Homo sapiens: one gene and its partners. The protein of the gene in region 1 purifies or fractionates together with the protein of each later gene. This does not show direct contact. Each region holds a gene or a part of one and is shown in the gene's direction. Other genes may lie near its edges.

Evidence for each region.
Region 2: the proteins of FAM170A (region 1) and STARD13 purify together in Homo sapiens (co-immunoprecipitation; one large-scale study listed by IntAct). This does not show direct contact.
Region 3: the proteins of FAM170A (region 1) and CAMK2B purify together in Homo sapiens (affinity purification with mass spectrometry; one large-scale study listed by BioGRID and IntAct). This does not show direct contact.
Region 4: the proteins of FAM170A (region 1) and NTPCR purify together in Homo sapiens (co-immunoprecipitation; one large-scale study listed by IntAct). This does not show direct contact.
Region 5: the proteins of FAM170A (region 1) and FRMD4A purify together in Homo sapiens (co-immunoprecipitation; one large-scale study listed by IntAct). This does not show direct contact.
Region 6: the proteins of FAM170A (region 1) and VAPA purify together in Homo sapiens (affinity purification with mass spectrometry; 4 studies listed by BioGRID and IntAct, with this or other methods). This does not show direct contact.
Region 7: the proteins of FAM170A (region 1) and ACAT2 purify together in Homo sapiens (co-immunoprecipitation; one large-scale study listed by IntAct). This does not show direct contact.

What each region holds. Positions count from the first base shown.
Region 1 is NC_000005.10:119,632,558-119,636,322, forward strand, and holds the end of FAM170A (protein FAM170A), read left to right. Parts: intron 1-190; coding exon 191-331; intron 332-1,402; coding exon 1,403-2,177; intron 2,178-2,470; coding exon 2,471-2,477; 3' UTR 2,478-2,529; intron 2,530-3,142; 3' UTR 3,143-3,265; downstream 3,266-3,765. UniProt on the Homo sapiens protein: Acts as a nuclear transcription factor that positively regulates the expression of heat shock genes. Binds to heat shock promoter elements (HSE).
Region 2 is NC_000013.11:33,107,756-33,111,255, reverse strand, and holds part of STARD13 (stAR-related lipid transfer protein 13), read left to right. Parts: intron 1-348; coding exon 349-570; intron 571-1,165; coding exon 1,166-1,383; intron 1,384-3,500. UniProt on the Homo sapiens protein: GTPase-activating protein for RhoA, and perhaps for Cdc42. May be involved in regulation of cytoskeletal reorganization, cell proliferation and cell motility. Acts a tumor suppressor in hepatocellular carcinoma cells.
Region 3 is NC_000007.14:44,221,095-44,224,594, reverse strand, and holds part of CAMK2B (calcium/calmodulin-dependent protein kinase type II subunit beta), read left to right. Parts: intron 1-3,500. UniProt on the Homo sapiens protein: Calcium/calmodulin-dependent protein kinase that functions autonomously after Ca(2+)/calmodulin-binding and autophosphorylation, and is involved in dendritic spine and synapse formation, neuronal plasticity and regulation of sarcoplasmic reticulum Ca(2+) transport in skeletal muscle.
Region 4 is NC_000001.11:232,971,111-232,974,610, forward strand, and holds part of NTPCR (cancer-related nucleoside-triphosphatase), read left to right. Parts: intron 1-3,500. UniProt on the Homo sapiens protein: Has nucleotide phosphatase activity towards ATP, GTP, CTP, TTP and UTP. Hydrolyzes nucleoside diphosphates with lower efficiency.
Region 5 is NC_000010.11:14,328,125-14,332,081, reverse strand, and holds the start of FRMD4A (FERM domain-containing protein 4A), read left to right. Parts: upstream 1-1,157; 5' UTR 1,158-1,485; intron 1,486-1,898; 5' UTR 1,899-1,979; coding exon 1,980-2,024; intron 2,025-3,957. UniProt on the Homo sapiens protein: Scaffolding protein that regulates epithelial cell polarity by connecting ARF6 activation with the PAR3 complex. Plays a redundant role with FRMD4B in epithelial polarization. May regulate MAPT secretion by activating ARF6-signaling.
Region 6 is NC_000018.10:9,931,016-9,934,515, forward strand, and holds part of VAPA (vesicle-associated membrane protein-associated protein A), read left to right. Parts: intron 1-794; coding exon 795-947; intron 948-3,500. UniProt on the Homo sapiens protein: Endoplasmic reticulum (ER)-anchored protein that mediates the formation of contact sites between the ER and endosomes via interaction with FFAT motif-containing proteins such as STARD3 or WDR44.
Region 7 is NC_000006.12:159,768,545-159,772,044, forward strand, and holds part of ACAT2 (acetyl-CoA acetyltransferase, cytosolic), read left to right. Parts: coding exon 1-84; intron 85-3,500. UniProt on the Homo sapiens protein: Involved in the biosynthetic pathway of cholesterol.

The sequences.
Region 1 (3,765 bases):
TGATACACTATCAAAATACCTGTTGACTGTAATTAAATACTGGAGTATCCACCAGAAGCCTGTCTCACAAACCATGTGTGTTCACTACACCTGACATAGGTCAGCCACTCAGTAAATATTTGTTGGATGGTAAATGATGCACAAACATTACCCATCCATCATATCTCTGTTCCCTTCATACCTTTCTCAGGAATGTCAAAGTCCCAAGAGGATGCCCTGCAGCCTGGATCCACTAGAGTGGCCAAAGGCTGGAGCCAAGGGGTGGGAGAAGTTACTTCTACCTCCGAATACTGCTCCTGCGTTTCTTCTTCACGCAAGCTCATCCACAGTGGTAAGGGTGCAGGGTTCCTTCGGCACGTGGCTCCTTGGCTGTGGGGTTCATTGGGCATGAAAATATTTGAGTGTGGGGCTCTGTGGGCATGAGACTCTTTGGTTGCAGTGCTGCTTGGGTGTAAGACTCTTTGGGAGTGGGGCTTTTTGGGTTTGGGGCTCCTTCGGTGTGACAGTCTTTGGGTGTGGGGCTCCTTGGATGTGACATTCTCTGGGTGTGAGGTTCCTTGAGCATGAGACTCTGGATGCAGGGCGCTATGGGTATGTGACTCTTTGGGTGCTGGACTCCTTAGGCATGGGATTGGGTGCAGGGCTCCTTGGGTAGGGGGCAGGAGGCCCATAGATCCAAGGATGAGGCTAAGAAGAAACCCAGGGCAGTTGGATATGATCAGAGCTCTGCAGAGGTGTCTGGGCAAGATGACAGAGCTGTTAGAAGAGCATGGATATAAGCTCAGTGTAGGAGAGCATGAGCCCTGGTGTGCAGTCAGGCAGTCAGGGAGCAGAGGCCAGAAAAGTCTGCTGTTGGGGTGTAGGGCCACAGGACCAGATTAAGCACTTTCATCGGAACTATTTGGGCTCTGCCTTTGCCTTCCAGAGAAAGACAGATTTCCTCAGCCCAGGCCTCCAGCACTGCAGCGGGACTCTAGCTCAGGCCCACACACCTCACACATACAGCCACACGCTCCACAGGTACACTTTCTGCACACACACCACCCAAATGCATGACCTGCAGTGCCATTCTCCCACACTACCTCCCACATTCCACAAATAACACATCAATGATGGCACCAACTCACATCCTCATAGCACACACATGCTGCCGACATTCCACATATGCTGCAGTCCTCACCACCATACTCCACACCCCTGTATATGGACACCCCACCAACATCCCTACACGCAAATGACACTAGAATCACTACCCCACAATATGAACAACAAATACCAAGCTCACTACACAGCTGCATCTCACCACAGTCCCTGTCTCCTGCACCACACATATTTAACTTACGTTCCCTCAGCTCCTAGCATGGCCCATGCATCTGCTCATGTTTCTAATTTCCTTTCCCAGGAATCCAGAGAATACATCGAGACAGCCCCCAGCCTCAATCACCCCTGGCCCAGGTTCAGGAACGAGGAGAGACTCCTCCCCGCTCACAACATGTCTCCTTGTCGTCCTATTCATCCTATAAGACTTGTGTGTCCTCTCTGTGTGTAAACAAAGAGGAAAGGGGCATGAAAATATACTACATGCAGGTACAAATGAACAAAGGTGTGGCTGTCTCCTGGGAGACAGAGGAAACTTTGGAGTCCTTAGAAAAGCAGCCAAGGATGGAAGAAGTGACCCTTTCTGAGGTTGTGAGGGTAGGTACTCCCCCCTCTGATGTGTCCACCAGAAACCTCCTGTCTGACAGTGAGCCCAGTGGGGAGGAGAAAGAGCATGAGGAAAGGACAGAATCAGACAGCCTGCCAGGCTCACCCACCGTTGAGGACACACCCAGAGCCAAGACTCCTGACTGGCTGGTGACCATGGAGAACGGCTTCAGGTGCATGGCCTGCTGCCGGGTGTTCACCACCATGGAAGCCCTCCAGGAGCATGTGCAGTTTGGGATCAGAGAGGGCTTCAGCTGCCACGTCTTTCATCTCACCATGGCTCAGCTGACAGGCAACATGGAATCAGAGAGCACCCAAGATGAGCAGGAGGAGGAAAATGGAAATGAGAAGGAGGAGGAAGAGAAACCAGAAGCAAAGGAGGAGGAGGGGCAGCCCACAGAAGAAGACCTTGGCCTGAGGAGATCCTGGAGCCAATGTCCAGGCTGTGTGTTTCATTCTCCAAAGGACAGGAAGTGAGCAAAGCCTGGGTTGTGGGTCTGCTGAGGGAGCAATGGCTTCCCCGAGCCAGTACTGTCTCCCCAGTTCAGGCTTAGGTCTCTGTAAGGAAGATTTGGGGGCTTTATTGGCTCAGGGAACAATGGAGGGGGACATAACTGGGATCCCTGCTTCTTGCCTAGGCATCTAATAAAGTCTCGATTGTAAGTCAGGATTTGTCTTGACCTTTCCAGCTCCTGCAGGAAATTCTGAGAATTTCAAAAGTCGCATTAACTAAGAAGTGTCTTTCTTTGGTTTGATTTTCACACAGCAGCTGAGACTTATGGGCCAGAAGATACTGGAAGATGGTGTGGCCTTCTCTTGCAAGAGGTAAGGAGTGAGACTTGCAGTTTTCTGAGGCTGTGTTGTGAGGGCCCAGAGGAATCCAAGGGAAGGAGCTGCAGGGATGCACTGGGTCACCTGGTGGCTCTGCAGCCACATCAACTTATCGTGCACCTGGTGCTTCTGGGGGAATTGTCCTCCATTTGCTTAGATGACAAGGTGAAGAGCATTGACTGGGAACTTTCTCAATGTCTGCATGATTGTCCTCAATTCTAAGAGGAGGTGCTGCAGCTCTTCTAGGCAGCGGAAGCTCAGTGTAACCTCAAGGGCCAGGATTGGCCTGAAAGGACAGGATGCCAGCAAGATCAGAGGTGTGGAGTCTGAGAGCCTTTGGCCTGAGCTGGGATCCCACCTGAGCCCATAGATATAGCCCTTGGGGAAAAGGGGAATTTGGAGAGGTAACAACATCATCCTGATGAGACACCAAGAGAACTGGAAATGTTTCAGAACCTTCATTTTGCTGCATTTGATCTGGAAATGAACTCACTGTGGGTTGCATGACTCTGAGCTTCAAAACAAAGGTGAAGGGTAACTGACTAGCAATGCTTGTATTGTTTCTTGCCTCTTCCTCTTCTGCCTCAATTGTTTTCTTCACTTCCAGGGAGAAGAAAGAGCCATGGAGATAGTAGCAGACAGGCTGCCCAAGGTATGAAGCAGATGAGGGACCAGCACTCAGTCTAACATGTAAACATCATACGTAATAAAGGTTGTGTTTCAAACCTTACCTGGATATATTATTTAATTAACAAATTAATCTACCTATCTATTCATCATTTTCTTTTTTTTTCCTTTTTCTTTTTCTTCTTCTTCTTCTTTTTTTTTTTTTGAGATGGAGTTTCATTTTTGTTGCCCAGGCTGGAGTGCGATGGCATGATCTCGGCTCACTGCAACCTCTGCCTCCTGAATTAAAGTGATTCTCCTGCCTCAGCCTCCCAAGTAGCTGGGATTACAGGCATGTGCCAGCACACACAGCTAATTTTGTATTTTTTTAGTAGAGATGAGGTTTCACCATGTTGGTCAGGCTGGTCTCGAACTCCTGGGCTCAAGTGTTCTACCCGCCTGGGCCTCCCAAAGTGCTGGGTTTGCAGGCGTGAGCCACGGCGCCCAGCCCTATTCATTATTTTCATCTATCTCTCCAGTGGTTTGTGAACGAAGTTTTACATCAGCACTAAAGATATCTACCAGCCTTTTCCAGAGGCAGCAATAGCCAAGCTCCTGGGTTTG
Region 2 (3,500 bases), on another chromosome or scaffold:
TCTGTCTGTTTTAAGTCTTATTCATAGTGGGTAAAGTTGTCTGAGCCCATATTTTGCCAAACTGAATAAAAAGACAGTAAAGGTAAAATAAAAGGGAAGTGAAAATAATAAAGGGGAAGTCATTGCAATGTTTTGAATAATAAATACAGCCTCAGAAACATGTTTGTATTTCCTGACTTTAGGAAGGCCCCTCCCGGCCTTGGCAATGATCTTAGAAAAACATCTCTGGCCGTGTGGCCCTCGGCCCGTGGCTCAGAGCCGGGTTGTGGGTGAAATGGCTTTGCTTTCTTTGAGTCTCGGCGTTTCTTTGGCTCAGTGTGTTGCCCTTTCATGCATCCGTTGGTCTAGGTTCCACACGAGTTGGTGGCCCAGTCTCGTAACTCGTATGTGGAGGCTGAGATCCACGTGCCAACCCTGGAAGAATTGGGGACACAGCTGGAGGAGAGTGGGGCAACTTTCCACACTTACCTGAACCATCTCATCCAGGGCCTCCAGAAAGAAGCCAAGGAGAAGTTCAAAGGATGGGTCACGTGCTCCAGCACGGACAATACAGATCTTGCTTTCAAAAAGGTAATCTCAGAGGATGGAAAAAGATCACCCCCAGAAAGCCACAGCTAACAATCAGACATTTGTTTTTGCATTGAAAACAGCTGCTGTGTCCACAGGGCTTGGCACACACGCGGACAGTTAAGGCACATGAACCATTCAAAGAACTCAGTCCAGAGATCTGTTGCCTATAATCAGAGAGTAAACTATGGAGCCGGACAGCTGGATCCCGGTCCTGTCTCTCCCCCGTAGCTGTGTGATGTTGGGCAAGTCACACACCTCTCTGTGCCTCAGTTTTCCCATTTGCAAAATGGACATTGTAAGAGTACCACTGTCGGAGGAAGGCTAATTTACAAACCAAATGGCTTAGAATAGTTCCTGGCACACAGTAACCACTAGGTGTGTTGGTGATTATTATTTTTATCATCATTATTATTCTTTTAAGCTTAAGGACTAAAATGTTACAGCTGAGGTATGTAGTATCACTCTCAATTTACATAATCAGTGATGGTTTTTGAACACCCAGCAAGGTATGATAGCAAAACTAAAAGCCCAAACAAAAAATGTTGGACCCATATCCCAGACAACCTCTTCAGCTTCTGACGTTGTCTTTCCCAAGGTGGGCGACGGGAACCCGCTGAAGCTGTGGAAGGCTTCTGTGGAGGTGGAAGCACCCCCCTCAGTGGTCCTGAACCGCGTGCTGAGAGAGCGCCACCTGTGGGACGAGGACTTTGTGCAGTGGAAGGTTGTGGAAACTCTAGACAGGCAAACAGAGATCTACCAGTATGTGCTGAACAGCATGGCTCCCCATCCTTCCAGAGACTTTGTGGTTCTCAGGTGAGCCTGACTCTAGGGTTTATGATGTTCTGTTCCAAAGGCAGGACGCGAACTGTAGATGTGAGCACTTCTCCTGGTGTCTCCCACCAAAGTCCAGCCTCCACGGGGAACACTAAGCCGGCTCTTGTTTCCCTCAGTGACATCTGAGTTTTCTGTGTCGATGCCCGACTTCCTGTGTCTTTTCACCCAGCCTACAGCTCTGCCTGGGCTCTCTGATTGCCCCTCTCCTTGTGGAGCACACAGTTTATTAGGCCATAAATATTATTCATTTCCTCAGAGCAGACGGCCCAGAAAAGCTGCTGTTTGTCCGGTTGCACTTTCTGCCAAATTATGCAAATGGATCTGACTGGCTTTTCTTCTGATTTTGTTTTTCTCCCCTGGGAAAGTGTGTGTAACTCTCAAGACTGGAGTAGGTTTGACTTCAGAACTCATCTGTATAACTTCAGATGCTCATAGCTATTACTATGCTCAGAAACCTTGGCACTGCCCTGGAGGTCCAGAAAATCTTGTTGATTCTGTGTCTGCCAAGGAAATATTTCTTCTGATTGATGTAAGGGTTGAGTTCCAGACCCCTGTTCTTGGGGTTTGGAAGGGGATGCTCAACCAATGATAGAAAGTTTGCACAGTAGAGATGCAGTGTTGCATCAGCCAGAACAGAAATTGAGGGTGCTAAAGAACCTGAATAGAAGGTAATTAGATCAATATATCCTTTTTTATTGAAAATCTTGGCAAGCCTTGTCTCATGTCACAGATCAGCAGTGTAAAAGGAACCTATTGTGAAACTCCCAAATGTATATTTAAAACGCTTTCTTTATGAAACCAGTTTTGATGGCAAACTAAAGGTTACTTTTCACATGAGCTCTTTATGACTTGGGAATTGGCCCATGGAACCTTGACTTTTAAAGGTCAATTTTCCCTAAATATATGTATTTATCTCTGCTTCCTTGGGATCCTGCTGGAGAATGCAGGCAGTTTATAAGGGTGGCATATTACCAAAGTTATTAGGACATTAGTCATCTGGTGGAATTAAACTTCATGCTTTCACTCCACAAGTGGAAAGTTGAATAGCTGTTGCAGGATGGCTGCCATAGGAATGGGGCCATGCCATAGCGTGCCTCCTCCCTCCCTCCAGAGGAGGCTGAGGGCCTGAGTCTGTGTGTAGAACCTCCCTCCTTCCATCCATCCGGCAACCCCACCAGCCTGCTATTTATCAGTGCTTCGTTCCATCACGACCACGTGCCAGGCACTGCAATAGGCTCTGGGTATGCCAAGGGAATGCAGCAAACCCCTCTCCTGCTCTCTTGGGGTTTGTATTTCACTGGGGAAAGTCCATAAAAAATAAGAAAGGGAGATGGGCTTACTTATCCTGGGAGGAATAAGATAGGGAGATAGTAAGGGATGGAATTTTAAATAGAATGGTCAGGGCGGGGTCTTGCTGCACTGATTTTGATCCAAGACTTGAAGAAGTGGAGTGGACCATGTGGCCCTGAAGGAGAAGAGGTGCAGCCCTCCACGGGCTAACAATGAACCAGATCTGGTTCCCAACAACAGGAATTCCTTATGTGTAGGATACAAGGAGGTGGAAAGTGATGAGTGTGGTGAGGAGGCACGGGGCTGAGATGCCTCCTGTCTTCAGAGCATCTTACAGTCTAGGCTAGCATGTATGAGGCTGGTCACCTTTCAGGATTGCTGCATTTGTCTCTCATGTCACACCCATTGCTAGCTCCTCGGGAGCTTCCGCTGAGAGTTGCTGGAGATTCTCCCATTTATCCCAACAAATCTCTACAACTTTCAGTCGTCACGATTTATCACATCTTCGTTCATGAAAAGAGTAGTCACAGCATGGAAGTCGCTGAGCATTTGTGTGGGGCTTGGTTATTCCCAAGTTCTTGTCAAGCACATATCACCATTTCTCTTCCTGGTGTAGGAGGACAGGGTGAAATCATGGAGGACATGACTTAGTAAGGGAATAGAATTTGTGGAGTAAATCATGGGAATTCTAATAATGCAATCTATTATGATAGATCCCTGGGGTAGAAAGGGAAGTTAGAGGTTGTTACAGAGATGTTCTCATAGCTCCTGACTCCCATCCACAACCTTTTTTCAAGGGGTAGCCA
Region 3 (3,500 bases), on another chromosome or scaffold:
GCCTGCCTGGACCTGTTGCCTCACCCCAAGAGAGCCACAGGCAATGCAAAGGCTCCTGTTCATGTCAGGGCACCTGGAAGGCCTGACTTGCAGAGGCTCTTGGCTCGTGCAGACCCCTCCAAGCCCAGGCCCTGCCCACCACCTCCCCTTTGTCTCTGGAACTGCCAGGACAGCTTGTCCTCAGCCAGCAGGTTTCCCGACCCGGGCACCTCTTCATGTTGGGCCCCCCTCCTTTCCCTCCATCAGGGATCATGCCCTTCTTCAGGGGCCTGGATATCAAGGACACAAAAGCTCCCATGTGCTATGTGGGGAGGCAGAGTGGGGGCTGGGTTGAGCTGGGGTCTGGGCAGCGCCATTCCGCAGGGCAGGGGCAGCCTAGGCTTCCCATCTGTGGAATGGGTGGGTGGGTCTCACAACGGACCTGCTTCCCGTACTTCAGCACGGTTACCACTCTTGATTGGAACTCTGACCATGCATCTCCTCTTCTGTTTACTTCACGCTTTCTCTTCCCATCAACTCCCATTTTAATTACAATTTGTTTAAAAGCACTGCATATTACTTCATTAAACAGAAGATTAGTTTCACTTACCATTAGTGTAAGGTGACTATAGAACCAAAGCAGACTGGAAACCAAATGACATAATGTCATTCTCTTCTCCATTCCAGCTGCCTGCTGCTGTGCGCCTGAGAACCCCTGTGGAGTGGGAGGGGCAGCTGTCTCTGTACATTAGAAAGGGAGGTTAACTAAGTGACAGGAGGTGTTTGGGACATGTGGACACCAGACTTCTCTCTTGATGCAAGGAGGGCAGAGCCAGGCAGCCTAGTGGGGGCTGGCTTGGGGGCTGCTGGAAGGACTGGCTACAGGTGGAAGAGAGGTCAGACCTGAAGCTTGGGGCCACCTCCAGGAAAGGACAGGTGAAAGTGGAGGCATGAGGCAGGGGAGAGGCAGGTGCCAGGCAGAGGGTGGAGAGGAGGCAGGAACATAGCAGCTGGGGCGGGGGCGGGCCTCAAGTGTCATATGCTACTTTCCTGGGGCCCAGGGGCAAGGACAGGAACAGCCACAGCATGTGTTGGGACAGAGCCCTGTGCCTTCCTAGAGCTGGGCAGGTGGAATGGGGCAGGAATGGGACTCGTGGTGGCTGCAGCAGGAACTGGAGGGGAAGGGGCTTCTGGATCCTGCAGCCTACCTTCCTAGAGGCCAGCTTTCCGGGGTCCACCAGGTGGGTGGGAACTGGGCTTGTGTAGCAAGACTGCCCTGAGGACCATCCATGACATGGTCTAGATGAAAGTTAGGAAAGAAAGGGAGACAAGCTGGCAGCAGAAGTACAGCTGGGTCAGGAGCAAGGGCCTTTCCAGATAGGGACAACCCAAGAGTGCACATGTGCCCACGCCACACAACACAGGCACACACGACACGTGCACGCTCATAGGCACTGCACACACACATGCACAGGTGCTCATGCATATGTATGAGCTTCATCTACACACATTCACATGCCGTCCTGCTTATGTGCATGTTTCCATACATGCACATGAATGCACAATCACGTGTACACACATGCATGTGATCACATACATGAACATGTGTGCACCCCACTCCTCAGGTGCCATCGGGCTCCTCCTGCTGTCACTGTGCAGCAGGGGACATGAGGCCCCAGAGCAGACAGGTGCAGCACAGGCGTTCCCAGGCAGTGCCCCACACACATGCATGAGCACACCCGGGCATGTGGCGCCTCCTTTGTGGACTCAGTCACCTGCCAGGTGGGCTCCCTGGTGGTGTGAGCTCCCAGAGGTCTGGCGAGAGAGATAAAGGCAACCCCACCACCAGGCGTGCTGAGAATTCCCTCTTCTGGCTGGGCACAGTGGCTCATACCTGTAATCCCAGCACTTTGGGAGGCCGAGGTGGGCAGATCACTTGAGGTTAGGAGTTTGAGACCAGCCTGGCCAATATGGTGAAACCTCATCTCCACTAAAAATATACACACACAAAAATTAGCTGGGTGTGGTGGTGTGCACCTGTAGTTCCAGCTACTCGGGAGGCTGAGGCAGGAGAATCGCTTGAACCTGGGAGTCAGAGACTGCAGTGAGCCGAGATCATGTCACTGCACTCCAGCCCGGGTGACAGAGTGAGACTCCATCTAAAAAAAAAAAAGAATTCCCTCCTCTGGGAATTTAGACCACAGACAGGTTGCATGTATGTGGCCGTTGGAGGCAGCACTCACAGCAAAGAGTGGAAACGTCACCACAGGGCCTGCCTTCTGGTGAAAATGGTGTCCTGCAGGGCGGGCAGCTGTTTGAGGGCAGGTGTCCCAGGTGCGGCCTGCAGCAGCCTGAGGGTCACAGAGCGCAGTGCTGGGAGTGCAGAGACTTCCCCCACAGGGAGAGTTCCCAGGAACCTGCTTCCGGTGCACTTCTGGGGGTTTGAGTTTTTTCCACGGACGAATTACTTTGAGAAACCACTGTTACTCGTGTGTATAGGTGAGCGTGCGTGTGCATGTGTGTTCTGTGTGTGAGTGTGCATGTATGTGCGTGCCTGCGTATATATCCTCGCAGATACGGCTAGGGACCTCACTCAGGACAGTAGTTCTGCCTGAGGAGAGTGAATGCGGCAAGATTGAGGAGAACACAGGCATCTTCAAACTACATGTGCGGTGCTTTATTTCTTTAAAAATGCGTCTAAAGCAAATAGGAAAATGTTAAGATTTGAATCCGTAGAGTGTGGGTTCTATTATTCTCTCCACATCTTCCATACGTTTAAAATCTTTTGCAATGAAAATAAGCTGTAGTTAAAGCAGCAATGCAGGCTGCCAGTGAGCGCCCCGGAGGCCAGTGAGGACCAGCATGGCTGGGTGGCCTGTTGGAATCCAAGGGGGGCGGGCAGGAGCTGCAGGCAGGCGCCCGGGAGTAGCCCGGGCATGGGGGTGCGGGGCAACAGGGATGTCTGCAGGGGTAGCATGTGGGCCCCGGACTGCAAGCAGGTGGAGCCAGCCGGATGCGGCTCCTATGAGAAAAGCGGGGAACAAGAGACCACGCTCGTTCTTCCTGCTGCGGGGACAGCCCTGGTCATCGCTCCGGGGAACCCTGCAGCCTGCGCCGCACGTGGCCGCCCCCTGCTGCTTCCTCCTCCCCGGCCTCCGGGTGGCCTTGCTGACGGCTCCTTCTCTGAGGCAGGTCTCTGCCTTCTCGCCTGGTGCCTGCACTCAGTAGCCCCCTCACCAGAGCTGCTGGGTGAAGGAAGCACTAAGAACCCAAGGCTCGGGAGGAGAGTGGGGCCGGGAAGCTGCAGGGAAGCGCAGGGCCAGGCCTGGTGGGCCCAGGGGCTGGCTCACGGGAGGGCAGGAGGGAGACTGTGGCGGACAGCACGTGGGGCCAGGAGGTGACCTCCAAGTGGATTGTGGGTGGGTTTTTTGTCCTCTTTCTGCATTTTCCAGGCATTTTGTAATGTGGATAGAATATTTCTGTTCTTCAAAAATACTTTAGTTAAGAAAAATAAGATGGAA
Region 4 (3,500 bases), on another chromosome or scaffold:
CTTTCTTTCCCTGTTGTCCCTCTGTTTTCCTCTCAGTCAGATATTGCTTCTCCCCAACCCCTACCCTTAGTTTCTTTGAGTCAGTGGTAGCTGTGCTCTTGGCTGAGCTCTGCTCACACACCTCACTCCCCACCCCCAGTTTAAAAGCTCCCTGGCCCTGCAAGTGCCAAGTGAACAAGTCAGGCAGGCAGGGCCACTCCTATCAGGGGGAGTGGAGAGTGAGTACCCGTGAGCACCTTCCTCATGATCATTTTAATCACTGAGTGAAATGTCACCTTGGCCCACTGGCAGTATCCACATGTTGCCACCAAAGAATCCTGGAGTATCCACATGTTGCCACCAAGAATCCTGGAGTGTGGTGGTAAACAGCCATTAGGGTTAGACCAGCCAGACTTGGAAAAATGTATGCGCTTCTTTATTGATTTATTTATTCCTTCATTTGGTCAATAGTGATTGAGCACCTACTGTATGCTAGGTGTCATTCTAAGTCTTGGGATACTGTGGTGAACGAGACTGACCAAGGCGCTGCTTTCATGGAGCTTACATTCTAATGGAGGAGCTGAATACCAAAAATGTGAACAGATAAGTTAAGCAATTTCAGATACTGATAAAGGCAAAAATAAAGAAACCAGGCAATGTGGTAGTTGGGGGCAGGAGTAGCAAGGGCGATCAGGGAAGGTCTCTTCAAGGAGGTGACATTTGAGAGCCCTGAAAAGTCTGTGGGGTTCTTCAGAGTTTCATGTCGTCTTCTCTTATTTTACATTTTTGGTTGTGATTATAGAGTTTCCATGGAAATCAAGGCAATGAATAGTGAAAGATCATGAAAGAAAATTAGTTTTGAGGTCAGATAGCTTCTAGGCTGGAAGACCGGGAAATTGCTAGTGTTAGACTCCAGGGATTGGCTAGTTCCACAAACTAATCTAATCTAACAGTCCTAAGGAAGGATTGAAAGGAGCTGACTGTGATGCCCAGAAACAGACTTTGTGTCTTAGGATCATACCACATTTCTTCCGCTCTCTGAGACTCAAAATTATTCTCCAGGCAAGATAATCATTGCTTCTAATGATCTGTAAATAAAACAATTAGCTTTGAGTTAATTAAGTAAGAGATAGGGGCTGACATACCCTGTTTTTTTTTGTTGTTGTTGCTTTGGGGTTTGTGTGGTCCTTCTGTTTCAGTTTTATTTTATTTTTTATTTAACTTATTTTTTTGAGGGGGAGGGACAGAGTCTTGCTCTGTTGCCCAGAGTAATCTGTGCTGGGATTACAGGTGTGAGCCACTGTGCCTGGCCTTTTCCAGTTTTATAAATCAAGAACCTCATTTTCTTTTTTTCTGAGACAAGGTTAGTCTCTGTGGCCCATGCTGGAGTGCAGTGGCATGCTCTTGGCTCACTGCATCCTCTGCCTCCTAGGCTGAAGCCATCCTCCACCTCAGCCTCCCAAAAAGCTGGGACTACAGGCATGTGCCACCACACCTGACTCATTTGTGCATTTTTTGTAGAGATGGGGTTTCACCATGTTGCCCGGGGTTGATCTCGAATTGAAGAGCTGAAACAATCTGCCTGCCTCAGCCTCTCAAAGTGTTGGAATTATAGGCATGAGCCACTGTGCCTGGCCAAGAACCTCATTTTCTTTATCTGCAAACTTAGGTGTTGGATTAGATATATTTTTGGGTTCTTTCCATTGCTCACATGCAATAAAGTATCCGAATCCATTTTTGAGAGTGCCCTTCACATTCAGTACTTAGTCCATCGTTTAGGCACCTGTGAGGCATGATCTCTGCCCTCAAGAAAAACAGACCATGGGGCAATCAAAATCTAGGGGCAGGGAAGGGAGAGATCTATGTGAGCAGTGGTAGTGGAGAGGTGTCCAAAGGAAGGGGTTCTTGAGTTGGCTCTTGAAGGAGGAAATGGGAAAAAGAAGGGAGAACATTCCAGGTAAGAAAATGAGCTATGAAAAGGGGTCAGAGTCAGCGTCCCCTTGCTACCAGCTGAACATGCGTAGTGTGAAGATGAGACTGAGCCCGTGATATGGGGGAAATGTACCACACGAATTAGTAATATTATCTAGACTTATTCTTCACAATGTTGGGTGAACAGAGTACTTTCCAATGAATATGCATAGTGTGAAGATGAGACTGAGCTCATGATATGGGGGAAATATACCACACAAATTAGTAATATTATCTTGACTTATTCTTCATAACGTTGGGTGAACAGAGTACTTTCCAAAAACACCCGAGAACTCTTCCAGTTTTAGACAAGATAGAGTAGACACACTTGTGTTTATTTTTCCTGCTAAGGATGTTATTTATAATACAAGCATAAGAAGACCTGAAAAGTGAAGAGAAAAAGACAGACTGGCTAGGAACCTAAGGACCTAAGGAACAACACAACAGACACAACTGAAAATCATTTGTCATGCCAAGAATCAGGAATACCTAAACCTGAGTGAGGAAAGGCCATCAGCAGATCTCAACAGCAAGGTGACTCAGATAGTGGAATTATAGGGCAAGGATTTGAAAACAGCTATCATAAAAATGCTTCATAAAATTACAGATACACATGAAACAAATGAAAAATAGTCTCAGCAAGAACTGGAAAGTTTCAGCAAAAACCTAGAAGATAGAAGAATCAAATGAAAATTTTAGAACTATACAATAGCCAATAAAAAAGTCACTGAATGGGCTCATCAGCAGAATAGAGATGACAGGAGAAAGAATCAGTGAACTTGAAGGTAGAACAATAGAAATTACCTGACAAAGAGCAGACTTAAAAGAAAAAGTAATGAACAAAATGAACAGAGTTTCTGGGACCTGTGGGACTATAACAAAAGATGTGACATTCACATCATTGTAGTAACAGGAGATGAGTGTGGGGTTGAAAAAGTGTTTGAAGAAGTAATGGCTGCATTTTTGTCATATTTGGCAAAAGACATAAACCTACATTTTCAGTGAACCCCAAGAGGATAAACTCAAATTCATGCCAAGACATACCATAGTCAAACTTATGAAAATTAAAGTCTTGAAAGCAGTGAAAGGAAAGCAGCACCTTACCTATAGGGTAAAAACAATATGAGTGACAGCAGATTTCTCAGGAGAAACCATGAAGGCCAGAAGGAGGTGGTACATTTTCCAAGTGTTGAAACAACTGTCGACTCATAATTCTATAAGACATTCACAGATGAAGGAAAACTAAGAGAATTTGTCATAATAGAACTGCTCTAAAAGAATGGCCAAAGGAAGTTCTCTTATCAGAAAGGAAATGGTAAAAGGAGACCTGGAACATCAGGAAGGAAGAAAGAACAATGGGAAGAGTAAAACTCTGAGTGAGTGTAGTGGGCTTTTCTTCCTCTGTTGACTTTTGAAGAATTATGTTTGACAGTTGAGGCAAAACGATAACATTCTCTGATGTGTTAAAAAAAATAGCTGAAAAAAGAAAAGAAAGAACAGTACCTGAGAAGGAAAATAAAATCTCACTGATACAATCTTTGGCACCTCCT
Region 5 (3,957 bases), on another chromosome or scaffold:
CGGCTAATTTTTGTGTTTTTCATAGAACAGGGTTTTGCCATGTTGACCAGGCTGGTCTTGAACTCTTGACCAGGCTGGTCTTGAACTCTTGACCATAGGTGATCTGCCCACGTCAGCCTCCCAAAGTACTGGGGCTACAGGCGTGAGCCATTGCACCCAGCCTTCACTCATTTATTGAATATATTTTAGTACTTACTCTGTGCTAAGCACTGTGATGAGCAAATACTTTTTATTTTTAAATTTTTTTAGAGACAGAGTCTTGCTCTGTCCCCCAGGCTGGATTGCAGGAGTGCAGTCATAGCTCCCTTCAGCCTTAAACTCCTGGACTGAACTGATCCTCCCACCTCAGCCTCCCAAGTAGCTGAGACTCTAGGCACACACTACCATGCTTGGCTAATTCTTTTATTTCTATTTTTCTTTTTTTTTTTTTTTTTTGTAGAGATGAAGTCTTGCTATGTTGCCTAGGCTCACCCTGAATTTTGGGTCTCAAGCTATCTTCCTGCCTCAACCCCCAGAAGTGCTGGGAATGCAGGTGTGAGCTCCCATACCTGGCCCAAATCAATAGTTTTAAAAGTATAAGTAATAAAGGAACAGTAGCTATGCTCGTGCACAGGAACATGAAAGGTCATTAATTTCTTCCCCCTAGTTTCTTATTTCGAAAACTGTTCTCTATGTTTCTACATTTCACACTGTCTAGTTAATTTTCAGGATTTTTTGGAGCCATTACAGGAGGTGAGTAAAGGAAGAAATCAGAAAAGGACATACTAGAAGTATCAGGAATAACCATTTTTAGTTGAATACATGGACTCCAGAAGAAGATACAAGCTTGACAGTGCTCATGAAAAGATATCTAATTTTCTTAAGTCTTTGACTCTGGAAAGCCCTTTGAGCTACCCATTATATAACAAGATTCGGCAGGTTTTTTCTTTCTCCCTTCATTGACATCTTCCGGGGAAAATGCTGCATGATATGATTTTCAAGGCTAACTTGCCTTTTCCTGTTAAGCAGTGTCCCTTGTGACAAATTCACCTCCTATGCCTCCCTGAACTAGGGAGGCTCCTTCAAAATTCCTAACAGGCAGCCCTGTGGAGAGATGGGAGGGAAGGGATGGGAGGGAGGAAGGGCGGGAGGAAGGGAGGGAGAGAGAGGTAGAGTGTGTCTGTATGCGGCGTACATGTGGTACAGCCAGGGAGATCAGAACGCTCACAGAACAGGCAGTGCAATTCCATGTTCCTCTTAAGTATGTTAGCCCTACCGGGAGCTGAGCTGGCCAGTCTACTTGGAGAGGAAAAGTAGATCTGGGGAAGGTGGAAGGGTCAGTTCCTAAGTGACTTCCTCCTCGGGGATGGTAAGGGCATTTGCTGATCTCCAGTGACTGCCTGGTGCCTCATGGTCAGACTCGGCTGTCTCACTCCCAGATATCTGATTTTGCAAAAAGGGACACACCTATCTGCAGCAAAGAAGACACTGACCAGATTGCGAGCGGTATGTTGTGACATTCAGCATGTTTATGCAGCAGAATTGCTGAGAGATGCAGAGAGAGGGGGTGGCTCGGGCTGCTTGATTTATCTGCAATAGGGAATGTTTTATTTTAATTGTCAGTTAAAGGAAGAATTGCTGCCAGGGCGAAGGTAGCAGTTAAACATTCCGTGTTCTAAGCTTTCACGTTTGTGTTTGATGCGGTCTCCCTGTCTGTGCCGCTTTGCGAAGCTAGGGAGGGCTCACTTTTAAATAACCTGCAGCTTCCTATTTTCCTTCTTCTTTTTTTTTTTTTCCTCCCTAAGCACAGTTCCCACCCTGTCTTCCCTGACCTCCTCCCCACCCTGTGTGAAAGGTGGCCTATCTTCCCCTTGAGCCTTTTGCTCCCTAAGTCTGGATTTTGGCTGCTTTTTCTGCAGGTGCTTTTGGATGCTCTGTAGCCACCCGGGGCCCAGGAGGACTGACTCGGCAGCAGGATTCGTGCATGGGAATCGGAGACCATGGCAGTGCAGCTGGTGCCCGACTCAGCTCTCGGCCTGCTGATGGTGAGTGTTCAGACAGGAGGTGGGGCCCGGGCAGCGTCCACTCCAGCCTCCCCTGCACCGTGGGCTGCTGCTGCCGCTGCAGTGGCTGCAGACATGTTCAACATTGCTCCGCTTTATCCCGCAGGCTCTTTGGAAATGCTTTCTTGGGTCAGAGTATCAGCATGACAAAGCACTTGCAGGGAAAAGAAGCTGTAGATTTGCCATTTCAGAAACTTGTTGCTGAATGCTATTTTGAGAGCTGTGCTTGCAAACAGGTGCTAAGAGCCCCTCGAAATAGATTGCTAGGATGCCTCCTCCAGCTCCCAGCATCCTTTCCCCCTTGTCTTTTGCATCTAAATTGAGCTGATTGTGTTTGTTTTTGGATATCTTCTCAGGGCAACTGTGGAATCTGTTGCCCATGGGGTGACAGAATGGGGTCTTCTTTCTAGGCGCCCATATATCTGCTCATACTTTCCTGTAGAGGTGGTGGAGGAGGTTCACTGTGGCTTCAGTGATGCTTGGGCTACTGAGTTGGGAGCAGCTTGTTTCCTATCTACCATTGATGGCCAACCTTGGCAGGACTTGTCCAGGCATTTATCTGTGTGTGAGCAGCTGACTCACCTTATGCCCCTCTGGAATTTTCACCATATTAAGAAAGCCCTAGCTCTTACCATATTAAAGCACACAAGGACATGGGCACTGTCTTGTTCCAACCCAATTGGCTTTTGGCTTGACACTAGGTTCAGCAGTGGCTTTTGCCATGGTTTTGCATCTCTCTCCTTTCCCAGGGTTCCCACACACCACGGTAATACTGGCTGTTGTCGGAAGTAGCCTGCATCAGGCTTGGCATGGAAATGTTTCCAGCATTTACACAGGAGATTTTATGAACCAAGCATAAGTGCTTCTGTGTATATTGATTTGTGTCTTCGGAATGAGGAGGGGAAATGCAACTTTGCAAGGCCTGATGAGTTTATGGAGGTGACTTGGAAGAGCCGTCAGTGGGAAGCCTGCCCCCTGGGTGGCAAGCCAGGTCATGTTAAAAGGAACAGATATCTTGGTTCTTCGTTGCTCAAAATTCCACTGGGTCCACAGATTTAGTTGAATTGCCTGAAATCTATCTCATGGGCCTCTGCTGACTTCTCATTTCACTGGGGGAGTAGGACTAGAAGAAATGAAATTGTCAGTTTCCAGAGAAATTACCCATTACCTGACTTCTTTCCCTTACTAATTCTATCGTCTGATGATACTTTATCCTCCATCGTCTACCTGTGGTCAAATAAACTGGATAGGAATTTTCATTCCATCACTGAGTATTCGTGATGATGGCTGGCACTAAAATGCATTATCTATGGGGTCTAGGAGACTTCTGGGAACCTGGGAGCCTGGGTTATATGCTCTGAAATACAGGCACACATATGCACACACACACACACACACACACACACACACACATGCATATGTATATTATATTATCTAGTACACTAACAGAAATAAATCCTGCATCGTGTTAATATAGAGGAGAAAAGTTTTCTTGAAAAATATCTTTAGGGAGAGTTAGACCCGCTTGTCTCAGCCTCCTACTTGGACCTTTCTTCTATACTTAGAAGAAAGATGTGTATCTGCTTTATTCCAAGCCCCTAAGCATGAATCCTTGGTATCCAAATTAAATGAATAGCATCCATTTCTGCTGTTATACACCCCCCCCCCCCACCCACACACACACACAGGCTCTTCTGGTCCTGGGTCTTCCACATATTATGGCTGCTGTCCTGGTAGTGTCTACATCTCAGACTTCACCTTCCATTTGTCAGTGGCCTCTGCCCTTAGATCTGTCCCTGGCACTCTCCTCCTGCCCGGAAAAAAGGATCGTGTTCTCCTCTCTTGGAAACCAGGGGAAAGAGCTCTTGACACCCTGATGGACCGTTTGATTAAAGAACCCTGGAGTACCATGTGT
Region 6 (3,500 bases), on another chromosome or scaffold:
GCTTTTTTAAAAAATACATAACTTTAAACGAATTGTTTTTAGAACGATTTAAAATTACTTTTGGAATACTTAGAACTGTGGTTATTGTTCCCAACTGGAACATGTTTTTATGTTCTTCCTCCAAATTAACAGGTATTTATTTTGTTGTCTAAATTAATCTGCATAATTTTTCTTCAGGCTTTTCTTCAGCAAAATGGATCAGCCTTTTGGGTTCTTTGTTTTGTAATTTTATGTTGTTTGGGTGCAGAACCAAAGCTTAAAAACTTTGTATCTAGAGCATATGGCATAATAAACACTTAACAAATATGTGAATGAATGAATGGATTGAATGAATGAACAAACAAAATTGAGGTGAAGCAAAAGCACTGATGTCATAGGGTGTAGGGTCTTCAGATGTAGAGATTTTTGCAGTTGGCCTAGTAAAATGAACTTGAAGATTGACACTGGTTTGCAGACAACTGGGAAATTCTGTTATTTTCAGCAACGTATTAACAACATACTGTAAAAATACAGTTGTAAAGTTCATAGATCCAAAGTTTCATAGTACTTTTTTGATAGAAATCATACATGTTTATGGTAGAAATTTTGTGAAATACAGGGAATGAAGAAGAAAATATGACTTGTTTTTAAGTCTGCCACCTCGAGAAAGGCAGTGTTAGTAGCCATTTGGGATATTTATGCCTACAAATGTCAGCACTTAATTAAAATTGAGGTTATATATTTTCAGTTTTGAATCCTTCGTTGTTGAGAATCCAATTAAATTTTGTTTTCTCTTTAATTTTTAAACTTTACAGGCCCCTTCACAGATGTAGTCACTACAAATCTTAAATTGCGAAATCCATCGGATAGAAAAGTGTGTTTCAAAGTGAAGACTACAGCACCTCGCCGGTACTGTGTGAGGCCCAACAGTGGAATTATTGACCCAGGGTCAACTGTGACTGTTTCAGGTAGCAAATCATGTTCTGAATTTATGTACATTTGAATTTTGACCTTTTATGATTATGTTTTTGTTTAATAAGGTTTCATCTGGAGGGAGGGAAATAATTCTTATATTATTCTGGTTTTGCCTTTAAAGATGTCTTGTTACAGTACTCTGCAAGCTGTTTCAGAAAATTTCTCACTCATCTTCTGTGTAGGGAGTGTGGTCAGTTTATAAGAAATTATTGTCAATTACAAACTTTAGTCTTTATTTCTACAGCTAACCACTACCTTCTCTGCCTTTGTTATTTTATCTTTGAAAAATTATATCATTTTTCTGATGGGTCATTCTCCTTCAGATCATGATCATATTACACATTGCATGCAGCTATAGAAGTGTCATAATTCTTTTGCTTAAAAAGGTGCAATGCCACTTTTTTGCCTACTGTGTCAAATCAGATGAGTCTTTATGCCTTTCATTGTAAATGTCAACAGTGTCCTGTGTGTGAAAACTTTATTTTTATTTTACTACTCTCTTATGTGTTTACTTGTCAAAGAAGTATGCTTGCCATATATGGATTACTTACTCCTGCTGTGGAGTTGATACTGGTACCATATCTAATGCCCCCTATAAACTGTTTCTTTCTTTCTCAGTCCCTCTGACTTCACTAATATAGCTGAGAAATAGGAAATAGGAAGTAAATATGAGAACTTTTATGGTTCCATGTATTTTACTTAGGGGAGAACCTCTCAGGCTGCATTTACTCTTTCTTTACAGCAGTACTTCTCAACTCCCACTATATGCTGTAATAACACAGGGAGCAGGAACACACATGGATTCATCTCTCCCAGATTGGAATCTCTAGGAGCATGACTTAGAAATGTTACATTTAGGCCGGGCGCGGTGGCTTATGCCTGTAATCCCAGCACTTTGGGAGGCCGAGGCGGGTGGATCACGACGTCAGGAGTTCAAGACCAGCCTGGCCAAGATGGTGAAACCCCATCTCTACTAAAAATACAAAAAATTAGTCGGGTGTGGTGGTGGGCGCCTGTAGTCCCAGCTACTTGGGAGGCTGAGGCAGAGAATTGCTTAAAACCAGGAAGTGGAGGTTGCAGTGAGCGGAGACTGCACGAGTAAGACTCCGTCTCAAAACAAACAAACAAAAAAAGTGTACCTTAAAAAAAAAAAAAGCCTGGGTGATCTTGATAAGTAATCCTAAGATATTATAATAATTCTGTATCAGTTTTCAAGTCCACAGCAGAATTGGGTACAGAGAGAGAGAACCCAGGGTAGGCTCATTGAGAGAGTATTTAGAGGTGGAGCCTGACTACAAAGGCCATGAAGGACAGACCATAGAGTTCTTGGTGACACTAAATCTTCCCTCAGCAGGTATAGCCAAAAACCTCAAGAGCTAGGAAAAAGATGTTTTAGTGAGTCTTGCGGTAAGGAGGCCTGGGAGGAGTGCTTTTCATGTTTCTTTGCTAAGTCTAATTCATCAGTTCCTGGGAAAGAGAGATGGGAAATAAAGATGAAGGAATGCATGCACTCTGCATGTTGCTGCTTTCTACTACATCTTTAAGCCTTTAGCACAATTGGAAGAAGAGAGAATTCTTTCTTTTTTGAGACAGTGTCTTGCTTTGTTGCCCAGGTAGGAGAGCAGTGGTGTGATCTCAGGTGACTGCAACTTCCGCCTCCTGGATTCAAGTGATTTTCCTGCCTCAGCCACTTGAGTAGCTAGGATTACGGGCGTGTGCCAACATGCCTGGCTCATTTTTGTATTTTTAGTAGAGGCAGGGTTTCACCATGTTGGCCAGGCTGGTCTCGAACTCCTGACCTCAAGTGATCCATCTACCTTAGCCTCCCCAAATGCTGGGATTACAGGCGTGAGCCACTGCGCCTGGCCAGAAGATATAATTATTTCAATCCACATGGCTAAAAATAGTTTATTGGTACAAACAGTTATATCCCTAGGAATCCATACAACTATGCAGAATGACTTTTTCTTTGAGGGGCCTAGATTGCTGGTTTCTGTGTATTAATATTTCTTGAGAAAACAACGTATCAAAACACTTTCTCCCACAGAAACCTGACTTATTAAAACCTTCAGACAAACTGGTTACTGATTACGCAAACATGCCCTTGGATTGTTCTACTTAATTAGAATTTGGCTTTTCCAGTTTTTAGTGTAGTGTATTTCCATTTACAGTCACTCAAAGCTATGCTTCTTCCAACAACCTTCTCTGGTTAATTCTCTGTACTACATGCTCATTTCTCTTTTTCCCTGTGTCCTTTTGACGCTTTGTTTTTTGAATTTGCTTCAATTTGTGCACATTTTTATATATGTTTTCAAGATCGTCTTTGTCTTGTTATGTGGTCTGCAACCTAAATTAGAGTATAACTCCTATAAACTTAACCATGTTGTAAGTTTTCGTTTTATTCACAAATTTTTGGTTCATAGTGATTAGCTTATAATCATTAACTCAGTGAAGGTTGCTAATGGAATTTTATTTAGCTTAAGCTGTATTCTGAGGCATTTTATCCAGTACATTTCCTGCTGCTGTGTATTTGGCCCCTTGAAAAA
Region 7 (3,500 bases), on another chromosome or scaffold:
AGATAGGTGAGATGCCACTGACTGACAGTATACTCTGTGATGGTCTTACAGATGCATTTCACAACTGTCATATGGGTATTACAGGTAAGGCAGACATGGCTGAAACTGTATTAGCTTTAAAAAGGTTAAAAAGACCATATACTAATCTGCTTCTTAGGTGCTTTCGTCCTTATGGCCAGAGACTGTCTTAAGGATTTTTATATCTCTTCTTTGATTAACTGAAGTGAAGTAAGTATTCTCTTCTTTGTGAACTCTTGATTATCAGAGAATGTTAGAAGTGGGAAGTACCTCAGAGTTCTTCTGGATCAACCCCTCATTTTACCAAATGAAGAAACAGGGCCCACAAATAGTGCTTCTGTGGCAGAGGTAGTGACAGAGATAAACCAGTTGTTTTTTTGGTACCTAGCTGTACTTTTTGTACTACACAATTGGGTTATTGGTCATTCATGCTGAAGGGTCCTGTGGTCTAAGTTTAATGGCAAAGCAACTGGGAAATCAAAAGCACTCTTGTCTTTAGTATACATGTAAAACTTAAGAAACAGAATAGACATTTTAGAGTTAAAGAATCAAACCCTGAGAAGTTAAGCACCTTGCTCAAATGCATGCAGCAATGGCTCTGGTTTTATGTAACACATAAATATGTGAAAAAGGTAATGGGGAAAAGTACAAGATTCCAAGAGGGAACTGTGTGCATGAATGCTAGGAAGGAAGGAAGGGCTTAGGGATATGGGAAGCAATGAGAAGCTCAAGGCATCTTGACCACTTCTCGACTTACAGCCACAACAGAGAAGGCTATAAAAACACAGGCAGACAATGGAAGACACTGTGTGACCAACTGCCTCAACCATAACTAGAGGTGGTCATTAAAAATTCAGATCCCGAGCCCTTTCCAAGGTGTACTGTGGATTGAATGGTACTCTTCCAGCCTCCAGAACTGTAAGAAAATAAATTGCTCTTCTTTAGAAAAAAAGAAAAGAAAAAAGGCTCAGGTCATGATGGAGTAATTGACAAAGATTAGATTTCCTACTATAAACAAGCATAAAACTTGTGAAAATATATAAAGCCACTGTTTTATGTATGTCAGGTTTTGACTAATACTCATGTAAGACTGAGATCCTTGAGAGAAGGGAAAACCCCACTGTCACTGTCTCTACCCAGGGCACTTCCCAAACTGTGTTATGGAGAGGCAGAGCCTAAGCTGGAAACAGTGGTCTCAGTGATCTGAAGAAGCAGAGAATTTGGGGCTTCTGAGATGGCTGGAGTTTGTGGGGCAGAATAAGGGGGAGAAGAAAAAAAGAGCTCCAGAAATCTGCAAAAGGTTCCCCTTAAGTCTTTGATCAAATACTAAGCTTGTAGATAACAGCTTACAAGGCCTAGTAGAAAAGAGCTGCAAAGGAGAGGTGAACTGGAGATTTTATAGATTACTAGGAGATAAAAGTTCTGGACAAGCGAGTGGAAACCTTACTGAACTCCTTGGACACTCCATTGACATCTCAGAAAGACCACAGTTTAGGGGTAGGGCCAAAGCCATAGAGTAAAAGCTACTCTAGACCCAAACTAATAAGCTTAAAAACAAGCCTCAAAAGGATCAAGGTGATTTGCCAGTATTTTGACTGCTTGTGGAAACAAAACTCAATATATTCTCTAAAGATAATAAAATCTCTATGTCCAGTTATGTAGCAACTATAATGTTCAGCATGCAATGAGAACTTTCTAGATACACAAAGAATTAGGAAAATATAGCTTACAACCAGGGTGGAAAAAAACCACAACAGTCAACAGACCCTGCAATACTAGAATTATCAGATGAGGATCTTAAAGGCTCTATTTTACATATGTTTAAAGATACAAAGGAAAATATAATCTTCATAGAGGAATAGATGTGGACATCTCAGGAGTAAAAGGAAAAAATATAAACAAGAACCAAATAGAAATTCTAGAACTTGCAAAGTACACAATCTGAAATTAAGAATTCACTGGGATGGGGCCGGGCATGGTGGCTCGCACCTGTAATCCCAGCACCTTGGGAGGCTGAGGTGGGAGGATCACTTGAGGCTGGGGGTTTGAGACTAGGCTGAGCAACATAGTTAGACCTCATCTCTAAAAAAAAAGAAAAAAAAATTCTGAATGGCCTTAACAGCATCTTGGAGACAGAAGAAAAAGGGTCAGGAAGTTTGAAGATAGATCATATACACGACCTGAAGAACACAGAGAAAAATAATGAAGAATAAATGAACAGGCCAGGCACGGTAGCTCACGCTTGTAATCCCAGCACTTTGGGAGGCCAAGCCGGGTAGATCATCTGAGGTCAGGAGTTCAAGACCAGCCTGGCCAACATGGGGAAACCCTGTCTCTACTAAAAATACAAAAATGAGCTGGATGTGGTGGCCCATGCCTGTAATCCCAACTACTTGGGAGGCTGAGGCAGAAGAATAGCTTGAACCCAGGAGGTGGAGGTTGCAGCAAGCTGAGATCACACCATTGCGCTCCAGCCTGGGTAACAAACAAAACTCTGTCTCAAAAAATTAAATTAAATTAAATTAAATTAAAAAATAGGCCAGGTGTGGTGGCTCATGCCTGTAATCCCAGCACTTTGGGAGGTCAATGCAGGCAGATCACCTGAGGTCGGGAGTTTGAGACCCACATGACCAACATGGAGAAACTCCATCTCTACTAAAAATACAAAATTAGCCAGGCTGGTGGCGCATGCCTGTAATCCCAGCTACTCGGGAGGCTGAGGCAGGAGAATCGCTTGAACCTGGGAGGCGGAGGTTGCGTTGAGCTGAGATCACGCCATTGCACTCCAGCCTGAGCAACAAGAATGAAACTCCGTCTCAAAAAAATAAAATATAAATGAACAGAGCCTTGGTGGTCTGCAGGACAAAATAAATAGGACTAGCATGCATGGAATAGGAATCTCATACATAAGGAAGAGAGAGAATGGGGCAGAAAAAAACTGAAGAAAATTTCCACATTTGGTGTGAAAAGAAGTTCAAAGACCAAGATAGACAAGGGAAAAATTACACCTTAGCAAATTGTAGCAAAAAGTTAAAAAAAGATCATGCCACTGCACTCCAGTCTGGGCAACAGAGTGAGACTCTGTCTCAAAAAAAAAAAAAACAAGAGTGAAAGTGAAGAGCCATTTTTAGATGAAGGAAAATGAATTGCCTGCACACCTACACTACAAGAAATACTAAAGGAGCCAGGCATGGTGGTATGTGCCTGTAGTCCCACCTACTCAAGAGCTGAGGCAAGAGATTGCTTGAGTCCAAGAGTTTGAGTCTAGCCTGGGCAATGCTATCATAGTCTACTATGATTGCACCTGTGAGTATCTACTGCATTCCAGTCTGGTTAACATAGTGACACAACAACAACAACAACAACAAAAGAATAGCTTCCAGCCGGGCGCGGTGGCTCACGCCTGTAATCCTAGCACTTTGGGAGGCCGAGGCGGGCGGATCATGAGGTCAGGAGATTGAGACCATCCTGGCTAACACGGT